Linked DNA regions of Homo sapiens. The protein of the gene in region 1 purifies or fractionates together with the protein of each later gene. This does not show direct contact. Each region holds a gene or a part of one and is shown in the gene's direction. Other genes may lie near its edges. The genes, in order: ATP8B4 and ELAVL4.

Region 1 (3,824 bases):
TGAGTATGTACAATGTATCAATAAAAATATAAAAAAATTTTAAAAATAAACCACAAAAATGCTCTCCATGAATTAATTTATTCAATTGTCCCAACAATCCTAATAAGGTAGGAACTATTATATTTATACCCATTAACAGATAATGAAACTAAGACACAGAAAGGTTGAGTAACTTGCCCAGGTTCGCATAGTTTGAAGTAGAATAGCTGGGATTCAGACCTAGGAAGTGTGACTGCATAGCCCATTCACTTGTTCACTATACAGTACTGGCTCCGGATGAGTTTCTAAATTGCTTGGCACATGACAGTTGTTGTGAACATCGTCCTCAGCCTCCTCATTATCATTCATTTTCTCTGTCCACCTCCATTGCTGGAGAGGACCACCTAATATTATATTTAGCACCACAACAAATCTGTGCTTTCCTGACTCAATGCTAACTCTTAGTGCTGTGTCAATGTCACTCTCATTCATATTTAGTGCCTTTTTCCATTTTCACAATAGATATTCTAAACCTTGGCTGTTTCCTCAAGTTCTCAACACTGCTACAATCTTCTTTACTCTTGAAAGCTAAATTCATCTCCTATTTCTCTAAGAAAATAAAGGCCCTCAGGAATGCACACCATTAAGTCTTTTCCCCATCCTCCCTCTTCATCCCTAAGCTGTATCTTTAATAATTTACTCTCCTGCATCAGAAAACAATTGCTCTTTTTCCTTTTCAAAGCTGAAGGTTTTTCCAGTCCCATTCCTTATCCCTCCTTGCTTGCTCACTTCTTGCTTTTGCCTTCAATTTCTCAATTACTGGCTCCTTCCTTCAGCCCACAACTATATTATCCTCCTGTTTCCTTAAAAATATTCTTCATATGCTGGTGTCCACTGACTTTGCCACTATATTTTTCTGCTTTCCATCCCAGATTAGTTTCTCAGGTCAGTTTTTGCTTCTTGCCTTTCTTACTCTTTTCATCCCATTAGGGTTAAGTTTCTTCTTCCTCTACTCAAGAAGAAATGCTTTCTCAGAGGTTTCCATTAACCTTGTAACTTCCCAGTCCAATGGCTTTTCCTTATTAATCTGTTCATCTATCTATTTTTTTAAACTTAGTAGTATTTGAGACTGTTGGCCCTGTTTTCTTGACACTCCTGTTTTGGTCTCTGTAAACTTTCTGGCTCCTGTTTCTCTTCTTGTCCCATTGTTTTCTTTCTCAAGCTCCTTTGCTGACTATTCTCCTTCATCCCATTCTTCAATATTGATGTCCTTTTCTCTTTTTAGCTCCTGTGTTCTTCTTGGATGATCTTGACCACATACATGGTGGTAGCTATTGCTTATATTCTGTGACCTTCTTATACAGCTGTTTAGCTTCGATCTCTTTCTAGAGTCCAAACACACATTTTCAGCTTCCGTTATGTCCTGTCACTGGATTGTTACCTAAAGTTTTATGTCAAATATGGAACTTTCTTTCTCACAACTATAGTTCTTTCTATAATCTGTATTAAAATTCACAGTTACCTCTCTCATTGTATGCTTGTCCATGAACTTTATAATGAATTCTTTTATTGAATCGTTGCAACTGCATGTAACATGCATGTCCCATTTAAGACAAGAGGAGACTAAATGCAAAGATTTTAAGTAACTTGCCAAAGATTGTCACACAGCTGTAACACAACTTGTGGCGCAGTTGGGTAAGAGGCAGATCAGATATGTGAACCCAGGTTTTCCAAAATCTGGTCTTTTAAGGCCTATTATAGCTCACTCACTTTTTTCCATAGCTTTTGTGCCCCTTGGCTGATGGTTCTCAAACTTTACCTCCCATCAGCGTCACCAGGAGGGCTTGTTACAATACAGATTGCTGGGCCTCAGCCTCTAGTCTTATTTAGCTGGTCTGAGGTGGGGCCCACCAATTTGCATTTCTAACAAGCTTGTGGGTGATGCTGATGCCACTGGTCAGGGAATCACAGTTTGGGGACCACTTCTCTAGACTAATAGATCCTCAAATACTATCCATTATTTTCCCCAGAGATGTTTGAGACATTTCTCTAATCCATCTCCTTCTCTTCCAGTCTCAGGCCTTAACATCTCTAGAATATTCTATTGTCACCCTGTTTGTAAGTCTCTCCTCAGAGGCATCAGAATAATATTTATTAAAATGGCCTCATAAACCCCTTTTTAATCATGAAAGCTTTTTGTCCTTTTTTCCTAATTCCCAGTACCCTGCCTTAGTTAAGTTTCTTGTCACTGCTTGCTTGTATTATTGTAATATCTTCAAAATTATTCGCTTTTAAAATAATCCTCTATGCTGTCACCAGGATATTCTTTCTAAAACATAGGCCTGATTTTACTACCCCCTACTTAAAAAGCATAGGTGGCTTCCCAAACCTTAAAAGAAAAAGTCATTAGTATGACGTGCAAAATTATTTGCAATCTGATCTCAATCTACTTTTCTTCTACTTTCCAAAACTTTGAGCTCAACTAGACCTCACCATCCCTGGATGCATTGTTGCTGTTATACCCTTTGGACATGCTGTTCTCCTGTCTTGAATACTCCTTTCCCCCACTTCTCTTCTTGGAAATGTTCCCTACTACTCATCTGGTAATGTCCAATTCAAATGTTACCCATTTTTCAATTCTTTTTCTATTCTCCAAATAACCACATTCTTCTGTGTTCCCCAGAATGCCTTGTTCATAACACCAGTGTGGTATTAATTCCATGACACTCACAACTATCCTAGTCATTAAACTGTGTGCTACCTCAGGCAAGTGCTGTACCTTAGTCTTCCTAAACTGCCCAAGGCAAAGCACAGAGCTTGGCACATGATAAGTTTTCTATAAATGTTTATGAAATACTACTCAACCCAGCACTTTGTAAATTATGAATATCCTACTCATGGTATTTAATCAATTTCTTACTATTTAAAAAGTGTTTATACGTAACAGTAGGGTTTTTGGTCTCTAACTACTAGAAACTAGCCTTGAAAGATGGCTCTCAGCAGGTAAAAACCAAATAACATCTGAGAATGTTTATTTTTATTTTTATGTTTTGACAACAGGGAAGTCATCACCAGTGCCACTGATGAGCACACATGCCGTTCTAGGTGTTGGCTTAATGTTGTATCAGCAGGAGCTATCTTCTATTTACAGCCTCAGGGAAGGTGTTATTGATGTTGGTTTGGCCCAGAGTTGGTTTCTTTTTGCTCTGAGGGTGTTGACAAAAACCTAAAATTGCTACACAGGGAGATGTTTGGCTTTTCCTCAGCATTGGTCACCATTACAGGCTGTGGAGAAATTGCAGCCTAACCACAAACATCAGATGTTTGCCTTAATGGATCCCATATGAGGAAAGGTAGTGCTCTACCACAGAATGCATGAAGGTTTGCTGGATTTATTTTTATTCTGCTTGGTTTTTAATCAGGAGGATTTTTAGAGGGACTCTACCAGGGCAGAAAAGTCTTTGCATGATAACAAGGCAGAAAACAATCCTGGTCTCATGATCGTCACATGGGTTGGTCTGTAGGAACAACACCCTGATGCAAAGGCTCAGGCATTGCTTCTGTTGCTGCTGATCCTCCCCTTTCTCCTCCTCCCTCTTCTGCTTCCTTGTTTTTGGGTGGCAGCCATTATTCACTAAATCATCAATGTATAATTTCAATACCAGTAGTACTTTCATTCTGAAGAAAGAGCCCTGATTTAAGTCAGAAGTATCTACATAAAAATTGATTTCTATAAAGGATTTTTTTCCAGAGGGAACAGAATATACTATATTAGTAAAAAATATAAATGACATTATATAGTTTTGGAAGGACCAATTCTACTAATTCTGTAAATAGAAATACAG
Region 2 (3,824 bases), on another chromosome or scaffold:
GTGTTGAGAGAGGTGCCAGAAGGGAACAGAGGGGTGGCTTTTTAGTTTCCAAGAGCAGGAGGCTGGCTGAGCCTCTGCTCCTTACCTCCCCTCTGCAGATATAAACGACCCTGGTGATGATCCGGCAGCTGCACGTCTGAAGCCTTCCCTCTTGCTTTTGTTGTATATTTTGCAGAAAAGAGTGGTGGGAGGGGTGAGGTTAATGCATTGAGTGTGAGTAATTAGTCATTCAAACCATCGACATTTACGATGACAGGATTTGAGTGCCTACGTTATTGTGCACCGCTCTAATAGTTTATCCCTGAAATTTTCTGCCTGTATAATGTTTCTTAAAATATATCACAGAAACATAAAAGATTTAATGTAGTGCTTTGTACATCCATTAGAGTTCGAAGTCAACTGAACCTCCTCAATGATCTATCCTGGATGCTGACTGTAATTCTGTTCTTAATTGCTATTCAAATGAGGAAAGGAGGGCAAGTCAGGGGCTTGGAACCTGGTCAGCTGCAAAGTTGGCTGTGAGACCCACACAGAATGTTTCATTAAAGTACATATGCACACTTGAGTAACTGATATATTTATTTGCAATGAAAATTGTGCTGTTAGAATATCAAAGGCGTTAGCCTGAGGAAGCAAGTGTTCTGATTTTGCCCAGCCAGCCTCTGTACTTACTGGAGGATGTGCTTTCTACCAACACACATCTTTTCTACTCCTGTTCTGTCCCTCTGTTTCCCAAGCAGAGAGAACAGGTGTCCTGTCTTTGAGGTCTATCATGTAACCTTAAAATGCTGTAGTTTCATATTCGTGCATTTAATATCTTTACATCTTGGCAACTTCTCTTATTTTCCAGGTAATGTTTTAAAATCCTCTTGTTTCATTCACATGTCAGATTTGATTCTGATGTTTTACATTTCTGATTTTTTTTTTCAGCCTGTGTTGCATCCTAAGATGCATCATTAAGACCTGTGAGGGGTCTTATTATAGGATGTATATTAACACATTTGCAAATGTTTCTCAGCTTTCAGACAGCACACTTTTATTGAGAAAACTCTCTTTGTATGTGTCCATTTGTGTGTTTTCATCAGTTCCTTCTGGATACACAAAAGAATAACTGTGTAGTGTAGATGCAGAGCAAAGAGAGCTCCATCTACATTGGATGAGAATGACTTGACCTAATTTATAGATGTGGTCAGCTAAAGTAGCTCAGTAGTGAGCATTGTATCTCATGGCTCCTTTTAGAAGCTAGTTGGGACCAGTTGGGCTGTCTAATCTACAGACAGGACTCACCTCCTGGAGTCAACATAGATTAGGAAATCCACATAGAATGCAAGGAAGGCCACAAAGCTGATGCGGGGACTGAAATTACTTTGCTGCAGCCTTGTTACTTCACAGGCCTTCCTGGAGGAGGTGGACCTGTGAGATGTTCACATGGACAAGTGCTGGCTTTCACCACGTGTCTGAAAACGAAAGATGAACCTGACTATCAGGTGACCTTTATGAGTTTTGGTCCCACAGAATCTCAACATGAAATTCTTCCACATACTCCATCACTAGCACCAAATAAGCTGCCTTGGTGTGGGATATTTTCTAGGTGTTTGTTGGGGAGCTGAAAGAAGGGTAACCTGAAAAAGGTAGAAAACAGAGAAGAGTTTCTAAAGATTGTGGGCCTGGGGGGTTTTTGCCATTAAATCGAATGTAGTAGTCCGGCCTCCTGAATGGATAAATTCTGATTTTCATGTTCATTATCGAGTTGGCAGTGCTTCTTATGTTTGTTGCCTGGACACCTGACTCAGTGAAGCAGTGAGACAACACAGCAAATGGAGGCACTGCAAAGACCCAGAAGGCCCCACAGCTTGGCAGAGCTGAAACCTGCCTCCTAGCCAGGAGTTGTGCTGATGCTCTGTAATGCCATCCCTTTAGCATGCCTCCTTCCCTGGGGACCATCTCCCTGATTCTTTTCCTGGACCCTTGCCTCGAAGGCAAAGTGGCTGAATAGGCTTTGCTGGGTACAACTTCTATCAGTCCTGAGGGGAGCTTGATTTAAGATTCTTCTCAGAAGCTTTTTGCTTTCTCCTTGCTGTCTGGACCAGCCTTCTAGAATCCTAAAGTTGACCTGAAGCCAAGAAGAAAATTCTGGTGATGGGAGAAGTGGAGCCACTTAAATTACTTACATGATGGTAAAGAATCTTAGATGCTCCCCATCTTTCTTAGTCTGCTTTATTTCCTTGGCTCCTCTTGAGCCATGTTTTCCTTTTTGTTTCATTTATCATTTGTGACCATCAGAAGATGAAAGAATTAGAATAACACTCACCTACGTGGGGCATGATGAGGAATAATAGTTATGATGCCTCTGGGCCCTTTGTATTTTAGACATTTAATGTACATTATCTCTCATCCTGAAGATAACCCTGCGTGGCAAGCTTTTTATTCCAGTTTTGCTGAAGAGGAAGCTGAGGCTCAGAGTATTGAAGTAACCTGCCTCAGATCACACAGCTAATAAGTGGTAAAACTAAGTTTTTTGTTTTTTTGTTTTTTGAGACGGAGTTTCACTCCTGTTGCCCAGGCTAGAGTGCAGTGGTGCAATCTTGGCTCACTGTACCCTCTACCTCCCAGGTTCAAGTGATTCTCCTGCCTCAGCCTCCCGAGTAGCTGGGATTACAGGTGTGCACCACCACACACACACAGCTAATTTTGTATTTTCAATAGAGACTGGGTTTCTCCATGTTGGTCAGGCTGGTCTTGAACTCCTGACCTCAGGTGATCTGCCCACCTCGGCCTCCCAAAGTGTTGGGATTACAGGTGTGAGCCACCGCACCTGGCCTAGAACTCAGATTTTAAATCACCTGTTGTCTTGACTCAAACACTCATTCCATTTTTACTATACCACTCTGCTTCAGATGAGAAAATAAACAAAAACAAAAACAAAAAATAGTCTCTGAACATTGATGAGGATGTGGAGCAACTGGAACTTTCATACTCTGCTGGTGGGAATATAAATGGATACAGCCACTTTGAAATACTGTTGGCAGTATCTACTGAAGCTAAATATACATACACCCTATGATCCCAAAAACAGAATCCTAGGACTATCCCCAATAGAAATATGTACATTTTTGTACCAAAATGTTGTACATAACGCTCATAGCAGCATTATCTATAGTAGTTCAAAATTAGAAACAATCCAAATGTTCATCAACAGATAAATAAAATGTAATATTTCCACACAATGGAAATTGCTATAGCAGTGGGAAGAACAATGCATTGTTACATGTAACAGAGCAGATGACACTCCATACATGTGTGAAAAGGCACAAAAGAGTATGTGTTGTATGAGTCCATGTATATAAAGGTAAAAAAATAGGTAAAACAAATCTGTGGACTAGAATTCAGAATAGTGGTTACCTTTGAGGGGTGAGGTAAATGACAGGGATGGAGAACCTGAGAAAGGCATTTGGGGTGCCAGTCATGTTCTGTATTGTGATCTGAAAGGTAATTACCCAGTTGTGAATTGTGTTCACTTTGTAAACATTCTTTGTGTTGTACCCTTAAGATTTATACACTTTATTACATGTATGTTATAGTAAATGAAAATGCTTCCCCCCTAAATCCTCTGAGCAGGCAAATGGTAATAATAATGGAAGCTACTAGTTATCAGATGTCTGCTATGCCTTGGTTTCCTCATCTATAAGACATAGAGAATATTAGAATATGCTTCATTGCCTTCTTGTGAGGAGACAGTGAGAGAAGTCACATTGGATGATTGGCAGAGTAACTAATAAACATCAGTGATTGTGGTTATGTGCCCACCACTGTTCTGGTGCTTT

Evidence for each region.
Region 2: the proteins of ATP8B4 (region 1) and ELAVL4 purify together in Homo sapiens (affinity purification with mass spectrometry; one large-scale study listed by BioGRID and IntAct). This does not show direct contact.

Annotation. Positions count from the first base shown.
Region 1 is NC_000015.10:49,927,072-49,930,895, reverse strand, and holds part of ATP8B4 (probable phospholipid-transporting ATPase IM), read left to right. Parts: intron 1-3,824. UniProt on the Homo sapiens protein: Component of a P4-ATPase flippase complex which catalyzes the hydrolysis of ATP coupled to the transport of aminophospholipids from the outer to the inner leaflet of various membranes and ensures the maintenance of asymmetric distribution of phospholipids.
Region 2 is NC_000001.11:50,139,682-50,143,505, forward strand, and holds part of ELAVL4 (ELAV-like protein 4), read left to right. Parts: intron 1-2,090; exon of another isoform or gene 2,091-2,171; coding exon of another isoform or gene 2,172-2,177; intron 2,178-3,824. UniProt on the Homo sapiens protein: RNA-binding protein that is involved in the post-transcriptional regulation of mRNAs. Plays a role in the regulation of mRNA stability, alternative splicing and translation.